Homo sapiens: one gene and its partners. The protein of the gene in region 1 purifies or fractionates together with the protein of each later gene. This does not show direct contact. Each region holds a gene or a part of one and is shown on either strand. Other genes may lie near its edges.

Region 1 (6,016 bases):
TTTTTTTTTTGGTCTTGCTCTGTCGCTCAGGCTGGAGTACAGTGGTGTGATCTCAGCTCACCGCATCCTCCACCTCCCAGTTTCAAGCAATTCTCCTGCCTCAGCCTCCAGAGTAGCTGGGATTACAGGCGTGTGTTACCACGCCCGGCTAATTTTTATATTTTTATTTTATTTTTTGAGACAGAGTTTCGCTCTTGTTGCCCAGGCTGGAGTGCTGTGGTGCGATCTCGGCTCACTGCAACCTCTGCCTCCCGGGTTGAAGTGATTCTCCTGCCTCAGCCTCCCAGGTTAGCTGGGATTACAGGCATGTGCCACCATGCCCCGCTATTTTGCATTTTTAATAGAGACGGGGTTTCTCCATGTTGGTCAGGCTGGTCTTGTCTCGAACCCCGGACCTCAGGTGATCTGCCTGCCTTGGCCCCCCAAAGTGCTGGGATTACAGACATGAGCCACTGCACCAGGCAATTTTTATATTTTTAGTAGAGAAGGGGCTTTGCCTTGTTGGCCAGGCTGACCTCTGGTGATCCTCCCTCCTCGCCCTCCCAAAGTGCTGGGATTAGAGGTTTGAGCCACCGCACCTGGCAAAACTAACTATTTTTTTTCTATTCTGTAATATGTGTAAAGTAGCATTAAATATAATCAAAAACTGTCCTAGTTACTATTATTGAGAATGTAATGCCTTGAATATGGTTTTTCAGATATGTTCTTCTTTTCATCCATCAGAGTCTTTGTTTGTTTTTAAGGTGATCACGAACAAAGGTATTGGCAGAAGATTTTGGTTGATAGACAGGCAAAACTTAATCAGCCTCGGGAAAAGAAAAGAGGCACTGAAAAGGTAATTGATTCATTTTTGTTTTTTTAGACTAAACTTTCCTTGAACGTTTAATGCCAAAGTCAGTACTAGGTAGTCATAAAATGATCGTAGTTTTGCTATTACCTAACAAAAATTTACTGAGTATATACTATGTTTTAGGTTGGGAGGGAAAAGTCATTTCTCTAGATTTCAAAATGTATGAAATTGAATTATTTTTCTCACAAGGATACATAATTTTAATTTAGATTTTTTCTTTTTAACCAGTGATATACTTTAACAGTCTTGATATCTGGCTGCTATGTCTTGTAGTTTGGTGATAAATGATTATAGAAAGATTATCTTCATGGTAAAAACACAATGTATTCAGAATGTAGTTTATAAAGATAGGAGGCTCCATAGATAAGATGGAGAGACTTTATGCATAGTGTTTCCTATAGCAACGATAAGCTTTATTCCTCTTTCTCTAAGATAGTAGGTAATACAAACAAGCTTAAATAATTTAAAGCAAGCCCCTCTTTCAGTAATTTTATTTTTCTGTCACTTAAAATGATACTGGTCTGATCAGTAGTGGAATCACACCTGGGAATAGCCACTGCTTTCCAGCTTAGGCAACATAGCAAGACCCTGTCTCTTAAAGTTTTAAAACAAATTATTATACATGTAAAGGTTAGTACATTTTAAAAGTGCCTGGAACAAAGTAGGGTACATAATACCTAATATTAACTACAGTCATCAAAATTTAGAAATGCATATTATAAAAGTGTAAGAAAAATGAAAAAGATGAACTTCCTTTTTTGTTAGGTGAGCAAGTTAAAAGTCCTATTTCCTGTAATCTAAGCTTGTTGATTTGGGGTCATATTTATACAAAAAAAAAAAAAAACTAACTTAAAAAGCAAGTGTTTTTCATCAACCTTCTTCTACCATTGCCCAGAATTTATCGTGATTTGTGGGGAGGTGTGAATTTTGTTTCCTTGAAAGGAGACTGAACTTGCTGTGGTGGGGAAGCCTCCTGTGCTTCCCAAGGATTCTTTCAGGGATATGAGGTGTTAATTTCAAAGCCAGTTTGAGATTATTCAAATGTTAAAATCACTAATCCAGAACTGGTAACTGAAGTGAAGTCACTTTGTTAAATAATACCCTTCTAATTGGTGTGAAATTTCATTTAGATTTTATATATTTTTAAAACTAGGAATAAACCTTTTATTTTTCATTTTAAAAATTTAGAGCTCATCTTTGACTAGGAAGTTCTTAAATTGAGTTGGAACACAACTCAGTTATGACGTCAGGATTGTCGTTAACGCAATTTGTTAAGTAGCTATGGAAGTAGCCAGTTGACTCTTGTCGTGAAATGAAACGGAGGTTAACACAGAAAGTAAGTGCTGTGCAAAGCTTGTTGGAAAAAAGGAGTAGACCATAATTAGTTTAGCCAACTTGTTTGCTAGTTAATTCAGCTAATGATTTTTGAGTGCCTTGTGTTAGGCACCATTCTTGGAACCTGGGGTAAAGCCATGAATCACAAAGTCCCCTACTTTCATGAAGCTAACAGATAAACAATATAGTTTAGGTGATGACCAGTGCTAGACAGAAAAATAAAGTGTATTGCAGGAGAGCATTGTAACAGCTGAGGTTGTCTGGAAAACTCTCTGCAAAGGTTATGTTACAGCCAAGACCCATAAGGAAGTGAGCGAGTAAGCCCCAGTAAAGTTTAGAAGTATAGCTTTTCAGGCAGAAGCAAAGAAAATGCAGAGACCGGAAGGGAAGACTGTCAGGGACTAGAAGACCAGTGTAGTTGGAGTACTAGGAGCATCTTAGTAAGTAATGGAAATTGCTTAGAAAAAAAACTAGTAGAACATCAGTGAATCTGCCAAAAGGTTACATAAATACCTTACTGACCTGACAGCCCAATATTTCTACAATAGTGTTGTATTTGGCCCATAATTGAGTAAAAGTAAAAAAATTCTGGCTCTTAATATTCACATTATGGGGCCAGGCACGGTGGCTCATGCCTATAATCCCAGCACTTTAGGAGGCTGAGGCTGGTGGATCACTTGAGGTCAGGAGTTGGAGACCAGCCCGGCCAACATATTGAAACCCTGTCTACTAAAAATACAAAAATTAGCCAGCTGGCACGCACATGTAATCCCAGCTACTGGGGAGGCTGAGGCAAGAGAATTGCCTGAACCTAGGAAGTGGAGGTTGCAGTGAGCCAAGATGGCGCCACTGCACCACAGCCTGGGCAACAGAGCAAGACTCTGTCTCAAAAAAACGAAACTAAAATAATATATTAAACACAAGTAAATTAAATTAGTGATGTATCACAAAAGATCAAGAAGATGAAGGAAAGGTCTGCCAAAAGGGATGTCTCCTATTCATTTTGCTAGCCTAAATCTTTGTAGTATGCCCTATGATTTTGAACACATTGGTAAAAATAGATAACAGCTACTAGAGACAGAATGAAGCTTATTTCTCTTTGGCTTTTAAAACATTTGAATTCTTTTCTGTAAAAATTACTGATACTCAGCAGGTAAAGGCAGAATTTATAAAATTTGTGAACAGCAGCATGGGTATGATAGAGTTCTAAACATCTTTGGATTTTAATTCACCTCAATGATGAATAATAGGCTTTTAGTTTAATCTAAAAGTGAATTCCTTCCAATTGCCATATGGTACCAAACACTTTAAAACTATTTAAATGAATACTCATTAGAATCTATATTTTTTAGAGAAAAAGATTTGCATTTACTCCAAAGTTTAATATTTTAACTTTTTTTTCTCAAGGAAGCTTTTGGAATATTTTAGACATTTTAAACAGTTTTCTTTTTTATTCTGTGTAATTTCATTTGCCTTCCTTAAAAATATTCAACAATTTATGTAAGGGTGTAAGAAATAGGAAATAGTAAATAGCCTTAATAACAGATTTGATTTGTAATTGATTTGACCTGAGCATAATTATCTCATTTGTCATCTTCTCGCTGTTTTTAAAAAATTTCCATTTAAGCTGATAGCTGTGAAATTTTTTCTAGTCATAGTTTTGTGTGTGTGTGTGTGTGTGTGTGTGTGTGTTTTGAGTATCCAATACATTTTAATTTTTGATTTATTTCTCTTTAGTTAATCACCAAAGCTGAAAAGATTAGACTGGCAAAGACTCAACAAGCGAGTAAACATATAAGATTTTCTGAATATGATTGAAAAAAAAAACAGTTCACCTCTTAATACTTCACAAGATACTTGAGCTGTTCTTGGGAGATTCACTTTTATTATGGTAGCACTGCATAATTAATGTGTTTTTAATTAAAAGAAATATCTTTGTTCCTCAACTTGTAAATAAGACTTTTTTCTAGAGACAAATATGATGTATACCACAATTTTTCTTAAACATTTTATTTGTTGAAATTATCTTAGATGTCAGTGTCAGGTGATTTAGTAAATAAATGTGTTTTGAACATTATTTGGAAATGTGTTGATTTTGTTTTTATACTGTAAAAACAAAACATAATTGCAAAAATACTACATGAATATATATAAAGTTTAGAGAAATGTTTAACACTAAACTCTCACTGTACTTAGTTTGTAACTTGCAATACCTTCAATACCTTTTCATGTTGATTTATACAGACATGTTTAATAGTTCATTCTATTCATTCCACTTTGCCTATCTGAGCTTCCATTGAACAATAGACCATAGGGATTGGTTCTAATTAAAATGTTAAATTTTTAAAAGAATTGAGTTTCTTCATAAATCAAGTTAAATGTTTTGTTTTGGTTAGACAAAATAAAATGTATTAGGTGCTATTAGCACAAGAAGGAAAAAATAGAGGAATCAACCTTAGGCAGAACTGAGCTCTGTTATTTTATTCAGGAAAATCATGGGAGTGAAGCATTTAAAGCCTTCCCAGAATTGAACTTAACTGGGTCCATACAGGACTGTCATCTTAATCTCTTATCAAAATCTCAAGGAAGTACTCTGGACAGCCATGGAGTTAATTTCATTGGGCTACAAACCAAATCCTGAATCTGTCAGCTTTATCCAAAATTGAGGGTCTTATTTGGCCACCCCCTTCCATGGATTGTGGAGAGGCTACAATCAGGATCTGTTCACTTCTATAAGCCAAATATTTGAGGAGATTGGCCATCTCACTGGTTGGAGTGACAGCTAATTGCTACAAAGTTAGTGCCATGGCAAGTTCCCACTCACCCGCTCCATGAAGTTTTTCTCTTTCCATGAAGGAAAGCTAGCATATGCATTTTCATGGAGGAGAAGGAAGATGTATAAATAGTTGCTAAGTCCTATTATGAGGATTATAACTAAAGATGCTCCAGTAGATCCAAAATATCAGGAGTAAATCAAGGTTTCAAGAATTCAATTGATGTCAGTGAGGAATGTCTTAAGGCAACATGGAGATGTTACCAAGTAAAATTTCAGAAATCCTCCCGTTAGCAGTTTGTAAAACTATCATTCAACAAATATTTATTGAATATCTGTGTTTGGACATTGTAACACTTGAGAAACATTGAACAAAACAAAGATCCCTCACTCATGGAGTTTATATTCCAGCAGCAGATACAGACAGTAAACAAAAATAAGTAAATTACACAGTTTGTTAGAAAGTGACAAGTCCTAGGAAGAAAAAATGCAAGGGAGGAGAACCCCTATTTATTCTTTCTTTCTTTCTTTTCTTTTCTTTTTTTTTTTTGAGACAGAGCCTCCAGGCTGGAGTGCAGTGGCATGATCTTGGCTCACTGCAACCTCCACCTCCTGGGTTCAAGCAATTCCTTGCCTCAGCCTCCCGCGTAGCTGGGACTACAGGCGCATGCCGCCACTCCTGGCTAATTTTTGTATTTTTAGTAGAGACGGGGTTTCACCATCTTGGCCAGGCTGGGTTTAAACTCCTGACCTCGTGATCCACCCTCCTCGGCCTCCCAAAGTGCTGGAATTACAGGCGTGAGCCACCACACCTGGCCCTCACTTTGTTTCATAACATTTAATTAAGTCCTACAAAAAGCTTTTGCATTGACAACTATCTTTTTAACTTCTCATTGAAGTAAATCATATGTACCAAAAAGTGTACCAAAGATCTATGAAATTTTACAAAAGGAGTGTACCTGGGTAACTGCACTCAAACAGATTACTTCAAGGCCAAAGATGCATGTCGGGGGAAAAAAAGAAACACATTATTAGCTGGGCAAGTTGGCACATTCCTG
Region 2 (8,123 bases), on another chromosome or scaffold:
GAAAGTGAGGTAAGAGAATAAATTCATTGCATTTAAGAATTACCTGGAAGTTGCACACATCACTTCCACTCATGTCTCATAGGCCAGACATTGTCTTACTAAGCTTCAAGGAAGGCTGGAAAAATGTAGTTTTTATTTCTGATTGGCCATACATTTTGTTGAAAGCCACAGGTGATTTTATTATTATATAGGAAGGAGAGAGCCAAGAGATAAGTGACAGTATCTGCCACAATGACAAAATTGGTTTAGGTCAGCTTGCAAATCTTCTGTCTTAGTCTGTTTTGTGTTGCTATAAATGAATACCCGAGGCTGGATAATTTTTTTTAAAAGAGGTTTATTTGGCTCACAATTTCGCAGGCTGTACAAGAAGCATGACACCCACCAGCATCTTCTTGGCTCCCAGTAAGGGCTTTTCTGCTGAGTCAAACATGGTGGAAAAGGTCAAAGAGAAGCAGGCATGTGTGAAGAAAGACCAAATCTGAGGGGCACCCTGGTATAACAACCCATTGTTTCATAACAACCCATTCTCATGGGAACTAACCCATTCCTCTGAGAGCCAATCAGAAGGGAAAGTTACTGGCTACTACAAGAACAGCACCAAGCCACTCATAAGGGATCCATCCTCATGACCCATACACAATCCATAGCATCTTCTCAGCAATATGTACTCAGTTGGTCCCTCCTTCCTTGAAACATTCCACTCTTTAGCTTCTATGGTGCCATATTTTCATAGCACCTCTCAGGGTCTGCTTATTCTAGCTGCTGTACAGGCTTCTCTTCTTTTATTCATTATCCAAAAAATTCGAATGCTAGAGGGGTCAGTCTGGGATCCTCCCATCTTTGTTGTCTATACTCTTTTTAGGAGAGCTCATATAATGACATGACTTAAAATGTCTGCTATATACTAATAGTTCCAAAATTTATATCTTTAACCCTGACTTCTTCAAACTCATACCAACTGCCTACTTGACATCTTTACCTTGATGTCTAATAAGCATTTCAACCTGAAACTGAGGGCTAACCTGATTTGGCCCACCAAACTTAACTTGTCTCATTTGTTTTTAGTTAATTTTAAAAGCTACATATTTAATAGCTAAAAGTCATGTAGCTAAGCAATATATACATAAAATTCCATTAGCTTCCTTACAGATTACATATCTGAGATATAGGTCACCATGGTAATGGTTGCTTGTTTTTCAGGAACTTAGAGTTAGCTCTTGTCCAGCTTAAGCCAGCTGAGACCAACAACTCTTCAACTGGGCCTGCATGAGTGTCCAATGGGTGACCTTTTGGCATCACAGGACCAAGAGCTCCACCCTCAGATCATGCTAAAGCTGCAATTTTGTGGACATGTGTCCTATGAAGAGCTATGAAGCTTGACTATGCTTGTGCACAGCACCAGTTGCCTCACTGTTTCTTACCCCAATTACCTTTCCCCATGCCTCAGACCACCTTGCTCCTTTATCCCGTAAATACCCTAAAACCCCATCTTTGGGAGCTGGATTTGAGATCTGTTCTCCTGTCTCCTCACTTGGCTGCTTCATGAATAAACCCTTTCTCTGCAGCAAAATTTGATGTCTCAGTGATTGGGCATATTGTGCAACAGGCAGAACAAGCCCAATTCAGTAACAAAACCAAATCTTCAAAATAGAGCAATGCTATTACCCTAGACTAAATGTTCTTAATATGAGGCTGGGAGCAGTAACCAGCCTCATAATTAAGAAGCTGTTTCGAAATGTAGGTGGGATTTTTCATTGTCACAGTGACTGGGGGTTGCTACTTATATTTCTTCTGAAATCTCTTTTTAAACTCAGCATTATGTTTGTGAAATTTATCAATGTCAATTCATGTAGATCTAGTTTATTTTTCTCACTGTATAGAATTTCATTATTTAATTATATCACAATTTAATTTAGTTACCCATTCTTTTGTGGTGAACATTTAGTTGATTTCCAGTTCCCTAAATTTACAAACCATATTGCTATGAATATTCTTTTTTTTTTTTTTTTTTTTTTAGCGACGGAGTCTTGCTCTGTCATCCAGGCTGGAGTGCAGTGGCATGATCTTGGCTCACTGCAATCTCCGCCTCCCAGGTTCAAGCAAGTCTCCTGCCTCAGCCTCCCAAGTAGCTGGGATTACAGGCACGTGCCACCATGCCTGGCTAATTTTCGTATTTTTAGTAGAGACGGGGTTTCACCATGTTGGCCAGGCTGGTCTCAAACTCTTGACCTTGTGATCTACTCTCCTCAGCCTCCCAAAGTGCTGGGATTACAGGCATGAGCCACTGCACCCCGCCCGAATATGCTTGAACATGTTTTCTTGTGTACAGATGTGAACATTGCTCTAGAGTATAATCTTTTTTTTTTTAATGAGACAGAGTCTTACTCTTGTCGCCCAGGCTGGAGTGCAATGGCGCGATCTTGACTCTCTGCAACCTCCACCTCCCAGGTTCAAGCAATTCTCCTGCTTCAGCCTCCCTAGTAGCTGGGATTACAGGCATGCACCACCATGCCTGGCTAATTTTTGTATTTTTAGTAGAAACAGGGTTTCACCATGTTGGCCAGGCTGGGAGTATATTCTTTAGAGTGGACTTTCTGCACCATCAGCTATGCACATCTTAAACTTTAATAGATATTATCAATTTGTTCTCAAAGTAATTGTACTAAGTGTATACCCAGAAAGATGGTCTTTTAGTGTACTGACTTACAAAGTTATGCTATGAGAGATGGATACCAGTATGAGAGAGAGTCCTCTCCTAGGTACTGTAAATGAAACATGAAGCTTCCTGGTCTGCCGCCAGGAATTCATTTTCCTCAGAGGGTGTGTCTGCATGGAACTCTGCTTCTGGAAGGGAACGAGGGAGAAAAAGAAAAGATAAGAAAAGGGTTGGACATGGTGGCTCATGCCTGTAATCCCAGCACTTTAGGAGGCTGAGGCGGGTGGATCACCTGAGGCCAGGAGTTCGAGACCAACCTGGCCAACATGGCGAAGCGCTGACTCTACTAAAAATAAAAAAATTAGCCAGGCATGGTGGCGGGCGCCTGTAATCCCAGCTACTCAGGAGGCTGAGGCAGGAGAATCACTTGAACCTGGGAGGCAGAGGTTGCAGTGAGCCGAGGTGGTGCCACTGCGCTCCAGCCTGGGCGACAGAGGGAGACTGTCTAAAAAAAAAGAAGAAGAAAGAAAAAGATAAAAAAGAAAAGACAAGAAAGGGAGAGCAAAGGACCAGGGACCTGATGAGAACATGAAATAAATGTTTTTTTTGCCGGTGTGACTTCTGATAATAGGCTGTACTGCAGTTCTGCCCAGATGTTGTGGGACATGAAGAAGCAGTTATATTTGTTTAGGTGGCTCTGTCTCTAGGCAGATTCTGACTCTTCTTTCTATTCCCAGTGTTAAGCCTCCATACCAGGACATTAACAGGCATGTAATAAACAGTTAGCTGAATGGATGAATGAGAGTACCCTGACACTGATATTATTTGTTCTGTTAAATACATATATTCTCACTGACTTGATCAAAACAAGAATTAAGGTTTCAATTGTGTCTGGCATAAAATAGAGAGTAGATAAATATTCTTTGAGTGGATAAAAGATAATCTAATTAATTTGAATTTAAACTACCTGAGCACAACCCTGTTAAATATGTTTTTTCTCATTGGCCTTAAGAAAAGAAAAAAGAGCCCAGAGCAGTTTGAACTATGTGAGGTATGCGGAATTTATCAGGCACAGAGAGATATGAGTTTGGGACTTCAGTCATGTCCCTACACCCCTGTATTAGTTAGTTCTCATACTGCAATAAAGACATACCCAAGACTCGGTAATTCATAAAGAAAAGAGGTTTAATTGACTCATAGTTCCGCATGTCTGGGGAGACCTCAGGAAATTTACAATCATGGTGGAAGGGGAAGAGGCATGTCTTACACAGTGGCAGGTGAGAGGGAGCGAGCAAGAGCAGGGAAAACTGCCCTATAAAACCACCAGGAGAACAGCATGGGGGAAACCATCCCCATGATCCAGTCACCTCCCACCCTGTGTGTGGTTCCTCCCCTCCACACTTGGGGATTATGGGGATTACAATTCGAGATGAGATTTGTGTGGGGACACAGAACCAAACTATATCAGTCGCCATGCTTGGGGGGCAATTGTTTCAAGTCACTTTGTCCCTTACTACCTGCTTCATCCATTTTCATGTTCTTCGAATTTGTGATACAAAGAAGAATGTATAGCCAATCAATAGCTTGTTATTGTAATGTAAGTTATCGGTAAACAATTTAGGAACTGCCTCTTCTTTTTTCTTTAAAAGCTACTTGTAAGTGCTGCTAATCAGAGCATATATTCAGGGCAATTTGAATCCATGCTCTCATGTGGCAGTCCTCAAACTTGGCTCAAATAAACTGTCTACTTATATTAATTTTGCCTCAGTTTTTCCCTTTAGGTTGACAATATTGCATCAAGTTGAATACTCACAGCAATTGTATGAACTAGGTAGTATTTATTACCGGCCCTATTTATACCTGAGGAACAGAGAAGTTGAACAACTTGTCCAAGATCACAGTTTCACAGCAGGAGGACCATTATTTGAAGCAGGCAGTCTGATTCCAGACACCCAGTTTTTACACGCTGTACTGTATTGTTTTCAAAACTCTAAGATTTCATGGATCTTTGATTTTTTTTTTAAATTTCACTTGTCCTTTTTTTTTTTTTGAGAACTACTACAACACGATGTGTGTGTGTATTCACACACATTTTTGGAAAATATCTGAAAAAAAACCCAAAGCACTTCACATGAATGGAGGGCCAAAGGAAGGGCTGGGGTACAGACGCCGTCCAGAAATACTTAAAAATAAATGTTTATACTAACACAAACTAGCAGCCATTCCCCTACAACCTGGAGTACTTTTTAACCCAATCTGTTTGGGATTGAGGGCGGGACTCCAGGGTCCCTGGGAGGCCCCGGCAGCCGCGCATGCTCAGAGCACAGGGACCGCTCCACCTCGTCCGTGGCCCTGCCCACCCAGGCCGCAAGAGCTGCCGGGACGGTCCCCATCTTCTTGGAGCGCTTTAGGCTGGCCGGCGGCGCTGGGAGGTGGAGTCGTTGCTGTTGCTGTTTGTGAGCCTGTGGCGCGGCTTCTGTGGGCCGGAACCTTAAAGGTGAGTAACTCTCGGTGGCTAATGAGAAGCTACAAAAGGGTCCGCTTTGCTGGTGCGCGACTGCGCGTTTCCGTTCTTTACTGCTTCTCGCGGCGTCCGTCCGCCCCTCGCCTTCCTCACGTTCAGGCCGAGCGCCGCGTGGGCCGCAGCCGGAGGCGGCGGAGCCGAGGGGGCGCGGGCGGCGGCGAGGCTGCCCCCGCGAGGAATGCGGGATCCTGGGGTTCCCCGCACGTGGCTGGTGCCCAGGCAGTTCCGCGGTTGCTTAGAGACGGGACTGTGGCTGCCCTCATCCCCATTGCGTCTTTTTTTTTTTTTTTTTTTTTTACCTCCACCGCCTTCTAGTCTCACCGAAGGCTTGTGGCCATCTCTGTAAAGTTTCTGGGGAGGTGGGCACGGGGTAAACGCCGGAGGGTTCTGTGGAGCCTATGGGACTGACTGGAGGCCAAAGAACTTTGGGCCGCAGATGTACACCAGCGTCACTCTTTTGGTCTGTTAGGGCCTTCATCGCTCACATCAGGTTTCAGTGTGAAACGGGAAAACGTGGGTAATATTTCATTTACAGTCGTACATTCTGGAAAAGTATCTGATGAAACGCAGTTCCAAAATTAGGCCAAATAGGTTTTGCAGGGTCTAAATAGTTATTTTATTTCATCGTTTGCTTTGTAGGGGGCCCTAGATCACGGTAGTAACTTAGGAGTGTAGATTGTGATAGACAAGACAATGCATAAAATTGAGTAATTTCTCTAGGGGGATGTGGATCACACAGTACCCCGTTGCAAGTGCTTCCTATGTGTATCCATGGTATCGAATGCAATTGCAGTGTGTCAGGGGATGCTTCCAGGAAGTGTACCTACATCAGTTCATAACTAGAGTCAACTAATGGCAATATTCTCGATGATTTGTTCACATAACTTTTGTACAGTTGGGATGACTGGGTGGCTTAGTAGAGTCCTGGAGGCAAGTACTTTGTAAGTAGAAGACTTGGTTTGTAATTTCTAGCAAACTAATAGCACAGCTTCCTTTTTTCATTGCAGTGCTAATGTCAGGAATACGAAACAGGAAACTGGCTATCCAATGTATTAGTAAATTAGTAGGCATACTCCCCAGTTTAATGTTGTGTTAGTATGACCACATTCTCCCATTTTTGTTTTCGTATGTTCCTTAGCATAGAGTATCTAAGGAACTGTAACATTTTTCACCTTAAAGTTATGATGTCTAACTTGGTAACAAGGTTTGGGTAAGTCAGTTGTGACTACATTTTAAAAGAAATGAGGCCGGGCGCGGTGGCTCACACCTGTAATCCCAGCACTTTGGGAGGCCGAGGCGGGTGGATCGCCAGAGGTCAGGAGTTCAAGACCAGTCTGACCAACATGGTGAAACCCCGTCTCTACTAAAAATACAAAAATTAGTCAGCCGCAGCCGTGGTGGTGGGCGCCTGTAATCCCAGCTACTCAGGAGGCGAAGGCGGAATCGCTGGAACCTGGGAGGCAGAGGTTGCAGTGAGCCGAGATCGCACCATTGCACTCCAGCCTGGGCAACAAAAGCGAGACTCCGTCTCAAAAAAAAAAAAAAAAAAAGAGGTGAACCCATACCAAACAAATGCACAGAGAGCCATGGTAATATACAGATAGATAGTTATCTGTTTAAAACTGGAAATGGTTGGTAAGTGATTGGAGTTTTTTTCCCTAAAGCTTGCTTGACCAGCTAAGTGAAGATAAACAGTTTCTTGTTATAGAAGATGGGGTAGTGATTTACTGAAAGACAAGTTTTTTATAGTTTTTAGATTTTTTCATCACTTATTCCAAAGTGTTGCTTTGTTGAGATATTTGAGAACTGAGTAAAGAAACTGAACCCGTGAAAATAGAAATTCTTGATTTTTTAAGAAAACGGGATATTAATACTTTGTAAACATTATCTTTCTATTCTTGAGTTTTATATAAAAAATAACTTTATGCTAATTTGGGAAATTTTACAGATAGCCGCAATGGCTGAAAATGGTGATAATGAAAAGATGGCTGCCCTGGAGGCCAAAATCTGTCATCAAATTGAGGTATGATTCCTGTGCTATAAACTGCAAAAACAAGTTCCTTGAAAGAAAATACAGAAAGAACATTTAATTCTAGTACATGGACATATTCAACATTTGGTTTGCCTTTGATTCTTAGATGAACATATAATAGCATACAGTTTTATATTGGTGGAGCCAGGTTGTGAAACTTAAGATGTACAAACATTTCAAAAGGTAACACTATAAACTAGAGTTACTTAATCTTTTTAAAATTTTAGTTTCATAGTCTCATATAAAATTTTAGCTTCATAGTCTCATATAAAATGAGAATAATAGTAGTTCCCTCCTCATAAGGTAGTTTGGAGGATTAGTGAATATAATGTTAAGTACTTAGAAGAATTCCTGACACATAAGTAACATAAAAGTCCTTGGTAAAGTACCTTCCCTGTTAAATAACACTATATTTTTGATGATCTTAGTTTTTTTCTGCCCAGTCAGTTCTCAGCTATTGTAACTTTAATATAGTTTTTTTTTTTTTTTTTTTTTTTGAGATGGAGTCTCACTCTGTTGGCCACGCTGGAGTGCAGTGGCACTATCCTGGCTCACTACAACAGTATTGGCTCACTGCAGCCTCTGCCTCCTGGGTTCAAATGATTCTCCTGCCTCAGCCTCCCAAATAGCTGGGACTACAGGAGCACGCCACCACACCTGGCTAATTTTTGTATTTTTAGTAGCGACAGGGTTTCACCATGTTGGCCAGGCTGGTCTCGAACTCCAGACCTCAGGTGATCTGCCCACCTCAGCCTCCCAAAGTGCTGGGATTACAGGTGTGAGCCACTGTGCCCAGCCAGTAACTTTAATATAGTATCTGTTTTCAAAACCCTCTTAGCATTTTTTCAAATTTAGGTATTATGTTTATGTTAACGTAATACCTCAAGTGATCCGTAGTACCTTTGCAGTAC
Region 3 (8,101 bases), on another chromosome or scaffold:
TTGCGCAGGATGGAGTACAGTGGCATGATTATAGCTCACTGCACCCTCATTTCCGGGACTTGAATGGAGGCCCGGCTAATTTTTTATTTTTTATAGATATAGGGTCTCGCCACGTAACTACTTTTAATTATTTTTATTGCCGGGTATGATGATATTGATATGTGAATACCTGTTGTAACTACATTAGAAGGCATAACAAACAGTCAGAGCCACCACAAAATGGATTGATAAAGAAATGATGTATTACCCAGATACCATGAGTAGCATTATCAGTAATGAAAAATTCTCCACAGAAGCTGCATTTTTAGTGAATTTAATGCGTATTAAAACAGTACAGAAATACATACATGACTCAGATAACAATAAACAAATTTACTTTCTATACCAAATCTTTACATAGTCTTCTAGCAACTAACACCCACCACTTCCATTAATGCAGATAGTGCTCCCTATCTTTGGAAAAAAATTTTATTTTTTTATTTTTTTTGAGATGGAATCTCACTCTGTTGCCCAGGCTGGAGTGCAGCAGCTCACTGTAACCTCCGCCTCCTAGCTTCAAGCAATTCTCCTGCCTCACCCCCCAGAGTAGCTGGGACTATAGGCACACACAGCCACGCCTGGCTAATTTTTTGTAATTTTAGTAGAGACGAGGTTTCACGATGTTGGCCAGGCTGATCTTGAACTCTTGGCCTCCCAAAGTGCTGGGATTGCAGGCGTGAGCCACTGCACCCGGACTGGAAAAACTTTAAATACCCTGCCAGGGGAAGTATTGCCCCTGTTGAAAATCACTATTCTAGACTTTGCCTGTATTTGCCTTTCTTACTCTACCAGTTTTTTATTGTATTTCCCCTTAGAGCCTTAGAGTTTGAAATTCAGTCATATTGGAGAGCAGAACTAATAAATGATGGCTGTAATCTGTTTTTGTGGTGCCTATGGAGTTATGGACAGATGGACATTAGGTACAGCCATCATTTCCCTAGGCAATCCTAATCATCTAGCTTGAAAGGTCAGTTTTCAGTCACTTGCCTTAAGTCGCTTTTACAGTTTACCTGTTCTGTTTTTTTAATTATCCTGTTCCCATCAATTAAAAATGTTCTTATAATAATCCAAGCTATAATTTACAGGTCAGATTTAAAGTTAATTTTATGTGGATCCTTTGATGCATATGTTGCCCCCAGTTCAGCAAGAAGCTAACAGTCAGTAAGCCAGTTTGTCCAGTTCATTGTAACCTTTGTTCCCTTTGTCATTAAACGCTAGAGCTACTACTGAGCTTTTTCTCACTCTGACCTGACGGAGTAAAGAGGGTGAGGCAGGCCACTGCAGGCCTGGAAATCCGTTTCCTTCTCCAGTGGTGATTCTTGCTCCTCGTGTTATCACCTTAATCCCAATATCCAGGCTAAAAAGTGAGATTATTCTCTACCCCCTCGCTTCTGACATCCAGTCATCCACAAAGTTTCTCATTTTGCCTCAAAAAGAGATCTCAAATGTCTTTTTATACATGGCTCCGTGGTCTAAACCTTCATCAGTCCTTGTCTGGACTTGTGGAGTAGCTTTTATAACTGGGCTTTTCTTACATTCAAACATACCTTATCACCCAAAGGTCACAGTTCCCATTAGGTTTCACTCTTTGCGTTATACATTCTGTTGGTGGGGAGGGGGGTTCTCATTTTTATGATCTCAAGGAAAGTTGGTAGTTGGGAGATGCAGGATAAGGTGAGAATGTAACTACTACTTCTGTTGGTAACCATGCTCTAGAGGTAAGAGGAGGGTGTGCTAGAACAGTTAATGTTTAATAGGATAAGGAGGGGCAGAATATATTTTGCTAGTCATTGCTACCCTCTTAATTATGGCTCAGTAGGTCACACTTTAATTTCTTAGACTTTTTTTTTTTTTTGCCTATCTTACGGGTAATGAGGCTACAACTGTTTGCAACTGCTGAAGTCTTGAAAGCAGAGAGCATGGTGGCTTGTGTTTTTTGATTTTTGCCAAATTTCCTGGTACCTAATTGGCAGCCAGAGAGTCTCTGGGAAAATTAATCTTTGACAACATGAGATTTATTTCATTTTCTAACTTGTTCAACTTGGTTCTGTCTTGCAGGAATGACACCAAGGAAGATGTATTTGTACACCAGGTGAGTGCTTGTGTAGATATTTGCACTTCTGATTCAAGGATTGTAAGAAGAAAAGGTTAGATATGTTCTCAGCTTTTGTTCCTTATAAAAGGTTAAGTCCAACCACCAGTTTATTTACTTACGACAGGAGTAGTAGCATGCTTAAAAATGTATACGTGGAAATGTGTTAGAGTTGACTTAATTATCCTAGACATTTCAAATTGGAATTTTGTCAACAGCTGTGGCTTTCTCAAATGTTGAGTCAAACTCACTGCATTAAATATTTATACCTAATTTCAGATGAACAGATTATTCCATGATTCTAAAGTTGAACAAATAATGTTGCTATAAATACACAGAAACTTTGGCAAGAAGTTTTCAAAGGCTTTTAGGTGTACCTGTAGGGACAAATCTCCATAATCAAGGGTAAATAAGACAGACCTGCAAAACATAGTAATTGAAGTGAGTACTTGAAAAGTAGCATAAAGAGCCTTCTGCTTACTTTAAATCACTTTGAATGGGTATTGGGTTTTTTTTTTTTTTAAACCTTTGGAGAGTTTTGGCTGGCTTGGAAAATGAAAAAATTTCACTAGTTTAAGGTTAAGTGGGGGGAAGTGTGACAAGGTTGGCAGCTGCTCATTAAATAATTTTTAGATTGGCTTCCAGTGATTTGGGAAGAGAAAACTGTTAACATAGGATGAGTACTGATGAGTACTGCATAGTGAACTTTCTCCCTAAGTATCATTTAGGGAAAATGTTTGCACATTCAGGAATTAAGATTATTACTAATGTAAACCACTGCCAAGTGTATGTTAATACTTCAAATTTAGATATGCTGTAGGCTACATTGAATGTACTTATCCTCACAGATACGAAATGAGTAGGAAAAAATATGTTTGTGCTATCAGTTTTCTCACTAAGGCTTTTGAAATATTGTCAACTTGTATTAAAATTAGAGACCATAACTACTTTTTTGTACTATAATCCAGAAATCAAAAGACCTAAAAGTTAATATCCATACTCACATTTAATTAGATACTAGCTTTTATGGCAGCATGTTTCATAGGAAGGGCTGTCATAGGTTGGTGCTTTGTAGCTCACTGAAGTGTCCTACACAGTATTTGATGACAAGGAGGAAGCTATATCAATTTCTAGTACACCCAAACCCAATCAGGTAGTTCAGGGTCAAATGTAATTATGGAATCATTTAAATTCTAAATGTAAATAAATACAGGACTACTTCAGACAAAATGTTGTTTTAAAGTAGATGTTTTATAAAATTGGTATTCTTGTTTGGAAGAACACAGCTCAACTGTTCCTTACTCCCCTTCTGCATGTTCAAAAGAATGTGTAGACTTAGGAACAAGAGACAGCAAAGTTTCTCGGTCTTGTTGCCTGTTGGCAACCCTTAAGGGTTGGGGTTGGGGCAGGGGTGGAGATGTTGATAAAAATAAAGAGTTGGGATTTTAATTATCCATAATTCTGCTATCCCCTATGACTGCAGGTAATTGATAGTTGGCTATATCTGAAAGGTATGAAAACTATGTGACAGTTTAGATGACAGATGAGATCAATTATTTGACTCAACTCACCCAGTTGTACTGATTCACAAGGTGCCACCAATATGCTTTCATTTTTTTGGAAGTGGTTTCAACATGTAGTTGTTTCTTGGGACTTTGGCTGCTCAGGTCTTAGTGGTGTATCAGGGAGACTGCAGTTCTGGGCAGCTTCACTTAATTGGCCTCAGATTCGTTGATTGTCCTGTCTCCTCTGCAATGGAAATGCATGAGTGATCCTGTAATGGATATAGCTGAGATTTGGAGTGAACATGGGATTTGGAGACCCAATACCTGGGTTTAGAAAGTCTCCTTACTAACTGTGTGACCTTGGGCAAGTCACCTAACTTTAAAGCCTGTTACATTATCTGTGTAATGGGATTAACAATACTTTCACATGTCCTGTCTCATAATGAGATTGAATAGATAGTAAGTGAAAGAATGTTGCAAAAAAATTTCATAGAAACGTGAGATGTTACTCTTCCTCCCTTCTCTTAACAGTCTGGAGAAAGTAGAAGCAACAAGTCTCTAATACAAGATTTATTGAATTCTGGGGAGGTGATAACTAACAATTCCATGCAGTCAGATCATATAAAGAATGACATAGTTAATACACATGAATTGCATTTCCACTGATGTATTATCAGATTGGAAGGGATTTTGGTTGACATTTGTAATTGAGTTTGATACGGTAACACAGGGGCAAAGTTGGTTTGGTCAGCTTTGAAGCATGCAAAACCAAACTCGCCTGTCATCTAAACTGACGCAGTGTGGGGCCACCTTCTCCTATTAAGTGCAGTCCTCAGGGGATAGATGGATATCCTCATTTGTTAAAAGTTATATATAATGCTTTTGCAAAAAGCAGTTTTTAAAATGATGTGTCTGTCTTGAGTGTTAAATTACTTGTTTTAGTTTTGTAAATAGTGGTACAATGCTGGGGCCTTGTATGATTGGAGTGTTTTTGTTGAAGTTGGGGATAGTGTGGTCCCCGCTTTCCTAAATTTATTGATGGTTTGGTCTTATTTAAAGCAAATCTTAAGTGTATATCCAAGCTAAAATAATATTGACTCTGGTACATTTTAAATGAAAAAGCACATTATTCTCCCCTGTTAATCTATTTTTGGAATGTGATATTACTAGACTGCCATAAAGAAGAATAACCCCAGGAAGTACCTTCGCAGTGTAGGAGATGGAGAGACTGTGGAGTTTGATGTTGTTGAAGGAGAAAAGGTGAGGATGCTTTTTGTGTAAAGGTTTGACTTCAGTATGGAAATATTTTGGAGGTCTCATCCATTAGGATGGTGGCTCTAATGTGGATGGATGTGTTCAGGTGACCTCATGAACACAGGTGCATCAAGCCTAATGTTCTGGCTGCAGTTAGAGGGCAATCTCTTCAGAACAGTGAGGAACTGATATTTAGTCATTTCTGTGCACCCCTGGTCACGCAGTTGCGCCCCCCCCCCCTTTTTTTTCCTTAACTTTGTTGTTTTTTGCTTTGTTTGAAAATGTTCTGATTTCCTTTTGAAAGTGTTGAAAGTGTTCTGATTTCCTTTGTCACTATCAATATGTAATGGCTTTTGTAGGGTGCGGAGGCAGCAAATGTTACAGGTCCTGGTGGTGTTCCAGTTCAAGGCAGTAAATATGCAGCAGACCGTAACCATTATAGACGCTATCCACGTCGTAGGGGTCCTCCACGCAATTACCAGCAAAATTACCAGAATAGTGAGAGTGGGGAAAAGAACGAGGGATCGGAGAGTGCTCCCGAAGGCCAGGCCCAACAACGCCGGCCCTACCGCAGGCGAAGGTTCCCACCTTACTACATGCGGAGACCCTATGGGCGTCGACCACAGTATTCCAACCCTCCTGTGCAGGGAGAAGTGATGGAGGTAAGTTTCACCATCAACAACAGCAATGTGATAAGTTCTGGTAGGACTGTTTAGAGCTGTTAATTATATGGAAAGCAACTTGGATTCCTAGTAAGAACCAAAAGGATTAATTTATAATGTAGTCACAATTACTAGATGGTCTGTTTTGTTTGTTTTTTAACTCTTGGATTTATCTGGTTGGGTTTTTTTATTATATTACTGACCCAGTAGGCTTAATTTCCATTGTCTTTTTCAGGGTGCTGACAACCAGGGTGCAGGAGAACAAGGTAGACCAGTGAGGCAGAATATGTATCGGGGATATAGACCACGATTCCGCAGGTATGGTCCACGTAAACATGTTTCTATTAAAATTTCCTCAAACCCGTGTTAGGACTCAGCAATATCATGCCTCTCCTGCAGACTCATTTTTCTGTTAACACTTCACGTTTTCTTTCATCAGATGCCTAAGAGGTGAACCTATTAAAAACAGCTTGTATAGATGAGGTCTGCTTTATACATAAATTTTTTTAGAAAATGATGAGGGTTTGGAATTTCAAATTTTCTGTCCTTGAACAGGTAAGATAATATTTTAAACCACACCTTTTAAACCTGCCTCCTTGGTAGGGAGAAAGGAAAGCATTAGGAGTATCTGAATTGTACCATGGCATTAGTGAAGAATCAACAGTGTTATCACTTGAAATGGCATACATTATCTTCCACTAAACACTTCTCAGTTTAGATATGTACCCCCTTTTTTTTGGAGTTGGGAGTTGTCAGCTCAAAGTTGCAAAATGAAATTGCTCCACCAAGAATTTACATTCTGCGGGGGGAAATCCAGTCTGTCGTTAGACAACTATCTACTTGAGTGGGTATTAGAAATCTTATTAATAGATGTCATTATTAGAGTAATCGAGGAAAAATTCCATGAACCAAGCATATTTTAGTCCATGCCGTAGTATACTTTGAGGCAGTGTTCCCAGTCCCACGGTGGTAGGATAGGATGGTGTAATAGTTGTTTCTCTAAGGGTTTGATATCAAAGCATTGAGTTTTCATAGGTGATCCCCAAAAGCTGACAGGTACCTCTGAAGAATCAAACCAATACAGTAATAACGCATCTTAACTGATCACTTAAATCGCAACTTTTAAATCCCCAAATTTTTAAGTGTCAAGTTTATTATTCTAGAAGTATCCAACATATCCAAAATATACTGTGAGTCTATAAGAGGGGGTTTCTGTATATAGGTTTTTAAATTTTACCAAAGTTGGAGCACTTAGTGAAGTTTTAGGAACTAGGGAATCTAGTCGAGGTTGTATTACATGTATTTATCAGCACATGTACATTGAGAGTTTTGCAAGAGCAGCTGATGTCATCATATTTTTTGTATTAATATGTCTTGTCCTGAGTTTTCAGTTAAAAGAGCTGAGGTCCTAACTGATCACTACCACAATTGAAGATCTCTGATTCAGTTTTCTACCAGGAGATTGTGTTAGCCAGATGCTGGATGTTGAAGATAGATGGGTTTTTATTTTTCAGAGTAGGTCTAAAATAGCCTCTCATGGCAGTCCATCTGTTAAGTCCATGGGTTCCAGCAGCAGAATCTTTGGTTTACCTTTTGTTACACTGAAGAGCTTAAATGTTTTGCCTAGTTTCATTGATGTCCTTAAAAATAGCATAATTTTGTGTTTGTATTCAGTGCTTCAGTTCACCGTTGAGTAAATTGTTTGTCTTTATATTGACAAACAAGCTTGCGGTTGATTTGTCTCTTAGAAAGGTATCTTTGTCCATTGTTACCCCTCCAGTGCAGAGGTTTTTGCCTTTTGGTTTAAGTTAGACTTAATGTCTACGTGTTTCAATGTTTAGAATGCTCAGTCCTGCCAGATAGTTGCAGAAGTAACATAAAATTGCTTGGAAGTTATCAATGAATGCTAGACTTTCCAAACTGTGCAGGAATCTTTTGTTCAAATGAGAGTAAATGAAACATGCTGCCCCTAATGCATGGAATGGTGTGAAATTCTGACTGGTGTGGGTTCAAGAGCAAACTGAAAGGGAAATCTTAAGACAGAGTATAGTACAAGTGTTGCTGAAAATGAGACTAATAGTAGTAAGGGGAAAATGGGGGGTCAAAAAGGGAGGTTTTTTGTTGAGAAATAACATTTATAGGCTGAAATGCAATCCAGGATAACAGTTGATGGCAGGAAAGTGACTGCTGGAACTGTTTTCTTTCTCAGAGAGGGTAGGGTTTTGCCCACAGGTGAAAATGTTGACCTTTTGTTAGGAACCTGCCGTTTTCCTGTGTAAGAAACAAGAATACATGGGCACGCATGTGTTAATGGGAAGACATGGAAGCCTTTGGTTGCTAAATTGAGACGAAAGTAAAGAGGAAGTTTGAAAAGTTTGGGGCAAAGAACCCTCTAGAACAGAAAATAGAGATGGTAAATTTATAAGTAATAGGATAACGATCATAAATTAGAAGTGAGTTCACCCAGCTTGACTCTGTGTTTCTAGCCATTTGGGCATCAGGCTCAGGTTGGGCAGAGAGTTGGATTTATCCAGATTTGGTTTATCCAG

Evidence for each region. The genes of interacting proteins can lie anywhere in the genome.
Region 2: the proteins of LARP7 (region 1) and SSB purify together in Homo sapiens (affinity purification with mass spectrometry; 4 studies listed by BioGRID and IntAct, with this or other methods). This does not show direct contact.
Region 3: the proteins of LARP7 (region 1) and YBX1 purify together in Homo sapiens (affinity purification with mass spectrometry; 5 studies listed by BioGRID and IntAct, with this or other methods). This does not show direct contact.

What each region holds. Positions count from the first base shown.
Region 1 is NC_000004.12:112,653,325-112,659,340, forward strand, and holds the end of LARP7 (la-related protein 7), read left to right. Parts: intron 1-743; coding exon 744-835; intron 836-3,922; coding exon 3,923-4,003; 3' UTR 4,004-4,262; downstream 4,263-6,016. UniProt on the Homo sapiens protein: RNA-binding protein that specifically binds distinct small nuclear RNA (snRNAs) and regulates their processing and function.
Region 2 is NC_000002.12:169,793,824-169,801,946, forward strand, and holds the start of SSB (lupus La protein), read left to right. Parts: upstream 1-5,047; 5' UTR 5,048-5,153; intron 5,154-5,478; exon of another isoform or gene 5,479-5,693; intron 5,694-7,128; 5' UTR 7,129-7,137; coding exon 7,138-7,203; intron 7,204-8,123. UniProt on the Homo sapiens protein: Binds to the 3' poly(U) terminus of nascent RNA polymerase III transcripts, protecting them from exonuclease digestion and facilitating their folding and maturation.
Region 3 is NC_000001.11:42,691,393-42,699,493, forward strand, and holds part of YBX1 (Y-box-binding protein 1), read left to right. Parts: intron 1-2,097; coding exon 2,098-2,131; intron 2,132-4,806; coding exon 4,807-4,896; intron 4,897-5,249; coding exon 5,250-5,552; intron 5,553-5,787; coding exon 5,788-5,870; intron 5,871-8,101. UniProt on the Homo sapiens protein: DNA- and RNA-binding protein involved in various processes, such as translational repression, RNA stabilization, mRNA splicing, DNA repair and transcription regulation.